Regions from separate parts of the Homo sapiens genome. Here region 2 is linked to region 1. The links come from fine-mapping of genetic effects on gene expression. A gene starts in region 1. The other region holds a variant in brackets. All regions are shown on one strand. Distances are from middle to middle.

Region 1 (4,387 bases):
TATGCAAATACAAAACTTTTTTTTTTTTTTTTGGACAGAGTCTCGCTCTGTCACCGAGGCTGGAGTGCAGTGGCGCGATCTCGGCTCACTGCAACCTCTGCCTCCTGAGTTCAAGTGATTCTCCTGCTTCAGCTTCCCAAGTAGCTAGGATTATAGGTGCCTGCCACGATGCCCGGCTAATTTTTGTATTTTTAGTAGAGACGGGTTTCACTATGTTGGCCAGGCTGGTCTCGAACTTCTGACATCAGGTGATCTGCCTGTCTTGGCCTCCCAAAGTACTGAGAATACAGGCGTGAGCCACCATGCCGGTCAGAATGCAAAACTCTGTTTATCCGTCTTGCTCTGTCACCAGGCTGGAGTGCAGTGGCATGATCTTGGCTCGCTGCAACCTCTGCCTCCCAAGTTCAAGCGATTCTCCCACCTTAGCCTCTTGAGTAGCTGGGATTGCAGGTGCCCACCAGCAGGTATGGCTAATTTTGGTATTTTTAGCAGAGACGGGGGTTTCACCATGTTGGCCAGGTTGGTCTCGAACTCCTGACCTCAGGTGATCTGCCCACCTCTGCCTCCCAAAGTGCTGGGATTACAGGCATGAGCCACTTTGCCCAGCCAAAACTCTTAACCCAACATCGAACACTTGGTAAGCACTCAATAAATGGAAGCCATTTTGATTATGATTATCAAAGTCTAGAACATAAAGTGGACTGTGTACATGCACTCTTTAGGAGCAGTCTTTTGGCCCCAAACTAGATTCTATGGGAATTCCCAGGTAAGATGCTTCTCCAAAATGAAGTGAAGCCATGTGACCCAGGGTCTTTAAACATTGCTTCCTCAAACCCTCCCCCAGTAGGGTACTTCTCCCCCAGAGGCATGGGGATCTGGCCACACTATAAGACAAACTTCTGGAAGTGGGGGCACATCAAGCGTCTGGGTGGTGCCAGTGCCTGGGCCTGAGCTAAAGTCTTCACCAGCCTGCCCCTTTTGGGGAAGCTTCTGACAATTTCGATTACCGAAATCTTCCTGCCTTTTGGGATAATACAGTCAAATGCTCCATTGAGACAGACTTCTGTATCTTTACAGGCCCTAGAATGAGACCAACCCAAGGCCCAGCATCTGCAGAATGTCCCGTGTAGAACCAGGAAGGAAAAACTAAACCACTCCTTTTCCCCTCTTCCCAACACACCCTTCTCTCCTCTCAGATCCTTGGAGTTCTCCGCACTCAGAACCTACAAGCTGCCCAGGGGTCTTCCAGACCAGCCCCAGTTGCTTCCAGCCTCCTTCCGCCAGCACATCTCTGCAGCCTTGGGCCACCGATCCTAAGCCAAAGCCTCCCCAACCTCTGGGCTCAGAAGCAGGTGTAATCCCAACTCCAGCAGGGAATTCCAGAGGTGAAGGTCACGGGAGCATCTTTAATCTTCGGTTCCCAGTAGAGAAGATACCCAAAGAGCAGGGAGCAGGAGCCAGCTCCAGGCTATACATTTGTTTATTCATCAATCATTCATTTATGCATTAATCATTCATTCCCCCCACCCATCAGTCATTCATCTGCTTATTTATTCATTCAATGTGTTTGTACCTTGTCCTTGCTTTGGTTACCGCAGATGTTGGTCCTCTCCTGCTTTGATCTGTCCCCTGTTTCTCTGGCAGCTGCACAGCAGAAGCCTTCTCATGTCCCTTGTTGGGTACTTGGCTGAGAGTGTGTCTCCCTCTCAGAGGTGCCTGAGGAAAATCAAAGGGACAGTGCAGAGCTGTCTGCTGCCTGCAAGTTCCCTTCCATTGCAAAATCCAGCCTTCTGGTCCGTAGGTCAGTGGGAGAGATTGGGAGGGGCTGCAGAGGGGTCTCCAGGCCCAATCGAGGAATAATGGTCTGGACATCCTCACCATGTGTGAGCTCTGGCTGTTTAAAAAATAAAAAAAATAAAAAAATAAATATACTGGTCCTTCTGGGAGAAAGGGGACTGCAGGAGACTCTAAGCCTCTGTGCCTGGTTCTGAGGCCTGAGCTCAGCACTTTGGCAGGCCCAGAGAACATGGTATGGGAAAACCTGGGGCTGGAGTTTCAGAGGCCTAAGCTGTGAGCCTTCTGACAGGTCTCCCACCTTCCATCCTTCCATCTACCTGACCCTGTAAAGTCTGTTCTCAGCCAGCAGCCAGAGATCCTTTAGTAAAAGACCACGTCCTGCCTGTGCTCAGAACCCTGCCCTGACTTTCAGTTCTCTCGGAGAAAAACCCAAGGCCCCACTTGATGGGGTCCCCCTCATCTCCCACTCACTCCCTCCATTCAGCCCCCACTGGCCCCATCCTTCCCGAACTCACCAGCCACACTCCAACCTTAGGGCTTTTGCTATAGTTGTTTCTTCTAGAACAGGCTTGACCTGGGTGACTTGCTTGAAAGTGACTCACTTTCTCACTTCCTTCAAGTCTTCGCTCAATTGAAACCTTCCCCATAAGCCTACCATGACCCATCCTATTTAAAACTGCAAAGCACACAGGCACGCGCGCACACACACACACACACACACACACACACACCACTCTCAACCCCCCTTCCTCTTTAGCACTCATCACCTTCTAACATAATACATAATTTACTTATTATTTTTACCATTTATTGTCTGTCTCTGCCTGCTCAAGTATAACTTCCAAAAGGGTAGGGGTCTTTGTATGTTTTCTTCCCTGATGTATCCCGAGGGTGGGCCATCCCATGGATGCCTGGTGTATAGCAGGAGCTAGTAAAACATTCCTTGGATGAAAGAATGAATGAGTGAATGGGCTGTAGGAAGCTCTGAGGATGAAGCTTGTGAAGCCACAGGCTGTGGAGTTTGGGGCTTCCTGGGGGTAGAATTTAGGAGGTCCACAGTGGCTTCTATCAGCTGTGCTGAGGAGAGAAGAGCCAGGCAAATTGCCCGCTGCCAGCCTTCTCGGGGAGGAAAGGTAGGCAGCAGCATCGGTGGGGATTGCGCTAACTCAAGGTGCCAGCTCCATGCTGCTCTGGGGCTGGCCAGCGCTCTGGATGTCATTAGCTGATTTGTTCTGCTCTGCAGAATGTACTTTTCATATTTAGGCAGAAAAAAACAGCTTTCGATCCTTGTGCCCTTTCTTCTGTGAGCTGTAGCACATGGCCTGCTAATTATGAATTAATCCTCTAAAGAGCATGTTCATTATTCTAATTTAATTGTGCTTCGTTTCAGAAAATAACTAAACCCAGCGTGGAATAAACTCCAATGCTGATCAGTTTTCAAGAAGTTAACATAAGACAAAATTCTGCTAGAGGGCAGCAGCAATTTGGAATCATTAAAGGGAACCCATGTAAATAATAAAAACAAAACTAAAATGCAGAATTAAATTAAGGAATAGGAAATTAAATTTGGGAATCTAATCTAAAATTGAGGCCTTATATGCACAGGCTTACCCTGGCTTGGCTCTTCGCTCAGGAGTGCTCAGGAGAGGAGGTTCTGCAGAGTTTCCCACGACCAGGGAAGCGGCAGTCCCTCCTGGGTGGCAGTTTGCTGTTCTGGGAAGAGAGATGTGGGCTGAAGTGGGAGAAAGGGGGCTTTCCTCCCACGGGGTCAACTGTGATGAAGATGAAAGCCACATTGTCACAGATGCATCTGGATAGCTCATCCTGAGCCCTGGTGACCGGTTCAGGAGAACTGCCTGCAGCCAAGAGTCCAAGCTGCCACTCACTAGGAGGAAGCACAGGAAATGAGGCAGATGGTGCTGGGTGGCTGCTGGCCTGAGATGCTGGGAGTGGTCAGCCCTGGGCAAAGAAGCCGCGCCAGCCCTCCTTCACCTTTGGGCCCTGGGCACCCTTCCACAGGTGACCCAGCTCAGGACAGAGGCTGAGGGAGTTTCCTCCTGCCCGGGCAGTGGCCCCTAAGCAGGGTCCTGGCCTCCCCACCATCACCGTGAGAGCCCAGTTACAGATGGAGGAGACCCGGACTCCAGCAGCATCATGACAGGTCAGGCCTCCACCAGGCAAAATGAGAAAGGGAGGATGGGAAGGACGGGGTGTGGGGAGGAGGAGAGAGCCAACTTATAAAGTGTCTGCAAGTCAGATGTACAGTCAGGGGCAGAGTTAGCACCATGGCTCAGGCTTCATTATGTATTGATTTTTTAGACCCTGTCCCTGGGGTATTCTTTTTCTCTCCATATTCCTACCTCCTCTGGCTCTCTTCCTCTCTCTCTCCCACCTCCCTCCTCAAAATGAAAAGAGCTCAACCTTCTGAGTCAGACAGACTGATTTGGAGCCACAGTTCTTCCTCTTACTTGGTACTGGAGCTTCAACAAACTATTTTGCCTTCCTTAACCTCAGTTTCCTCATATGCAATGCTAATAATATCTGTCTCCTTGGTTTGTTACAAGGGCTAAATGCAAGAAAGCACTTGGCA
Region 2 (4,387 bases), 120 kb after region 1:
CAGTTCCTGATCCACATCACCTTATGCCACCATTACCTCTGCTGCTGGACAAGGAGGGAGAGCCTGCTCATTTGTCCATCCATCAGCCTGTTTAGTCCATCCTCCTCTCCATCTGCCTTCCTTCTCCCTTCTGCCCTCCTGGGCTCTAATAACCTAGAGCCTACAGATACCTTCCTTTTCTTTTTCCTTCTTGGTGCCCAGGAAGCACAGCCAAAAGGCAGAAGCTCATAACCTGCCCATACTCCCAAACAGAAATGAACCCGGGAGGAGGGAGGGATGAGCAGCAGCTCCCTGTCCAGCTCAGCCCAGCCCAGCCAGGCTGGAGGAGCCTTGCAAATGAGAAAGGCCCAGGGCAGAGCCACGTACTCATATTGTAGGACTGAGGACTTACAATATCAGTATGACTGAGTTGGCTGCAGCCCATATGCTGGCTTCCTAGAAAATAGACCTGTCTCCTTTCTGAATGACAACTGAAAGCTGCTAAGAGAAGAGGAGATGCCCCTTGATATCTTTCTCAAGAACTTGTTTTTCCAAGAATAAATGGGATGCAAAAATCACCAAACATTGTTTCGCTACGAAACAGTGAACTGACCCAGTTGTAGTCATGCCTGTATCTAACCCCTCCAAACCACCATCCTACACCATCTCCATCCCTTTCACCAATCCACAGTACAGATGGTCCCCAAATGATGATGGTTCAACTTACAATTTTTCAACTTTATAACATGTGAAAGTTACACATATTCAGTAGAAACTGTACACTGAGCACCCATACGACCGTTCTGTTTTTCACTTTTAGTACAATATTCAATAAATTACATGAAATATTCAACCCATATTATAAAATAGGCTTTGTGTTAAATGATTTTGCCGAACTGTAGGATAATTAAAGTGCTCTGAGCATGTTTAAGATAGGCTAGGCTAAGCTGGATGTCTGGCAGATTAGGTGTATTAAATGCATCTTCAACTTACAATATTTTCAACTTACAATGGATTTATTGGGATGTAATCATGTCATGAGTCAAGGAGCACCTGTATGTAATTATTCTGTTAGAAACTGAAGTACCCCCAATCCAGCACGTATCCTTCCTTTTCCTCTCCCCATAGCTGCTTTGAGGCAGGGCTAAAGCCAAGGTGATCTGCACCACTGCCTCTTCCAAAAAGCCCCTCCCTCTTTTCCTTAAAGACTTTTGGCCGGGCGTGTTGGCTCACACCTGTAATCCCAGCACTTTGGGAGGCCGAGATGGGTGGATCACCTGAGGTCAGAAGTTCAAGACCAGCCTGGAAACCCTGTCACTACCAAAAACACAAAAATTAGCCAGGCGTGGTGGCAGGTGCCTGTAATCCCAGCTATTCAGTAGGCTGAGGCAGGAGAATCACTTGAACCCGGGAGGCAGAGGTTGCAGTGAGCCAAGATCATGCCACTGCACCCCAGCCTGGGCAACAGAGTAAGACTCCATCTCAAAAAATATAAAAAATAGGCTGGGTGCGGTGGCTCATGCTTGTAATCCCAGCACTTTGGGAGGCTGAGGCGGGTGGATCACGAGGTCAGGAGATTAAGACCATCCTGGCTAACATGGTGAAATCCTGTCTCTTCTAAAAATACAAAAAATTAGTCGGGCATGGTGGTGGGCATCTGTAGTCCCAGCTACTTGGGAGGCTGATGCAGGAGAATGGCATGAACCCGGGAGGCAGAGCTTGTAGTGAGCGGAGATCACGCCACTGCACTCCAGCCTGGGCGACAGAGTGAGACTCCGTCTCAAATAGATAAATAAATAAATAAATAAATAAATAAATAAATAAATAAAATAATAAACAAAAACGACTTTTGCCAGCTGGGCACGGTGGCTCAATCCCAACACTTTGGGAGGCTGAGGCGGGTGGATCACGAGGTCAGGAGATCGAGACCATCCTGGCTAACACAGTGAAACCCCATCTCTACTAAAAATACAAAAAAATTAGCCAGGCGTGGTGGGAGGC[G/A]CCTGTAGTCCCAGCTTCTCGGGAGGCTGAGGCAGGAGAATGGTGTGAATCCAGGAGGTGCAGCTTGCAGTGAGCTGAGATCACACCACTGCACTCCAGCCTGGGCAACAGAGCAAGACTCCATCTCAAAAAAAAAAAAAAAAGACTTTTGCCACCTCCAGGGGACCCTCTCCTTTCTTCTTCTCTGTTCATTCAGTCTTTGACCCTTCTAAGAAGGTAGATCCATCAATTAATAATTTAATCATATATACACACAAGTCCCATTTTCCTGTTTTGTTTAACAATGTTACCACTGGGTGATTCTCTCTGAAAACTTTCCAGGAGCCTAAGGGAGAGGACACGATGGAAGAAGGGTCTGGGAAACACACAAGGAGAGCTGGGAAATGTGTGGCTCTAGTAGGCCGCTCCTGAAGATGAGCAGAAATTCAGTTATTCCAGCCTTCTCCAAATCCAGAAGAAAGTATCCAAAGCTTAGCTGAGACTCTGGCCTTAACCTTAACCCTACCCCTGTGAGTCAGTGGATCTCAGACCAGGGAGAAGTCATTGGACGCAATAGAGGATGTTGCTGGGCCTTCCCCAGAGGTCACGGAGGAGGCGCTTTGGTCTAGTGGTTATGAGCTTCAGCCCTGAAGTAAAGCACCTGGTTCTGAATCCTGGCTCCATGAATTATGCCCATGGGACATTACACAGGTTCATTTCTATTGTTTAGCCTTAGTTTCTTCATGTGGGAAAGGGGATATTAATAGTACTTACCTGATAGGGTAGTTATGCAGTATAGAGTAATTCTGGTAAATCATTGAGCCTATCACATCCTAAGTTCTCAGTAAACATTAGCTATGATTATCATTACTGTGTTTTATTATTGGGCTCCAGACCCTGCCCTTCCCTAGAGGTCCAGAGAGAGGATGCCCGCCTCTCTGGGAGTGAGTGTGCCATGGGCCCATCCAGGCTACCCCAGCTCTGTATTCAACCAGATGTGGCTCTGTAAGTACAGCAGATGAGGCAGGCTGGGAGCGCCAGGAACTGGACAGGACCACCCATGGGGCTGCGGTAGGTGCTGGCAGGACGGCCTCAGCTGCAGCTGCTGGGCAGCTGTCCAGAGTGACAGGCAGAATGCAGTGTACAAGGGTGTGGAAACAGACAACAGGTGGCAGCTCAGCACCAGTTGGCGGCTGCAGAGGGGAGTGGCAGATTATCTAGCATTTGGTAACAGGGCGTTGCTACCAGCAGGTGGACCACAGCCATGGGCAGTTCCAGAGGGGTCTTCTGAAATGTAAGCAGGCAGGCAGCAAGAAGAAAGTCTGTCAGCAGATCCCGGAACCCAAAAAAGGCTAGATGGGGAGCGGGAAGGAGGGGAGAGGACCAGAAAGAGCAATGCAGGGCCTCAAGCCTGAAAGGACTAGACAGGTTGGCAGGAACCGGCCACAGACGCAGGACACAAGGAAGCCTGGCATGACCAGAGCCCAGGCACGCAGCAGCAGGAGCAGGAGGACTGCATGGGATTGGAGTACGGCAGGTCCTAATGTGGTGCAGCCCCTCCCCCACCCCTGAGCCCAGGCCAGGCCAATCGCCAGGGCAACCAGGGCAGGCCTGAGCCTGTGCTATCCCCAGGATGAGGGTGCAGAAAGGGAAGTTGGAGGTCATCGTGGGGGTAACTCCTCCCTCCTTCTCCCTGCCTCTCTTTCTCTCACACACACACATCTAGAGTTCTGTCCAGCTACTATATCAATTCTCCTGATTCTTGCCCTTTTGCATGCTTTCTCTTCCCTAGCTCCTACTTACTGATGAAGAAATAGAATCAACTCTCAAAATGAAAAGCCCACTCTATCAGAACCTAAACAGCCCTCCAACAGTCATCTGGTAAGTGACAGGTCCCTAGGCTTCTGCTCTGTGCCCCAATGGAAGGAGCAGTCTGCAGGAGGGGACGTGGCTAGAGAGGGCTAGACTCCCTCAATTGAGGAAGGAAGGTGAGGGTCCCCATAGCCCCTAACTTGGGTTCATCTCCCACATGTCTCCTTAGGCTTGGCTAACAACCCCCTCCATAGACTCCATTCTGGGCCTCTGTCATGCCAATGACCCCAGAAGACTTTGTCTTGGAGACTGGGTGACCTTGGGAGCCAGGCTCAAGCTTATCTATTCTAAACTCACATCTTCACAGAGGAAATGAACCTATATTCATCTCCATAAGATGCTAAGCCTCGCTTGTACATGTACATTAGCTCCTAAGCTTCACACACATTTTTATGGTTTCCCAAGTCACACATGCGTGCTCTTAATCACTGGCCTCCAAAACTTAAGGGTGTGAGCAATGAGAATAGACACCATATTGGGGTGCCCCATAAGGGCAGACTGTAGTCACTAGATCACCCCTTACCCCAACCTCTTGGCATGTCAACCACATTGTCCA

Evidence for each region. PIP is the estimated chance that this variant, and not a neighbour inherited with it, causes the effect.
Region 2: its variant is the best candidate, but not a certain one, in a credible set for the expression of LINC02898 in lung (TOPMed, PIP 0.67).

Annotation. Positions count from the first base shown.
Region 1 is chr2:41,951,415-41,955,801 of GRCh38, forward strand. LINC02898 (long intergenic non-protein coding RNA 2898) reads right to left here and starts at 2,392. Exons shown (of 4, transcript NR_161189.1): 1 at 2,313-2,392; 2 at 1,574-1,894. LOC124905996 (a long non-coding RNA gene) reads left to right here. Exons shown (of 3, transcript XR_007086296.1): 3 at 1,197-1,635. RefSeq lists an enhancer at 2,128-2,267 and silencers at 4,289-4,338, 4,349-4,387.
Region 2 is chr2:42,069,436-42,073,822 of GRCh38, forward strand. No RefSeq gene overlaps it. Among named protein-coding and RNA genes, the nearest start is that of PKDCC, 24 kb to the left of the region's middle. The variant G/A (reference allele first, on the strand shown) is at 1,981.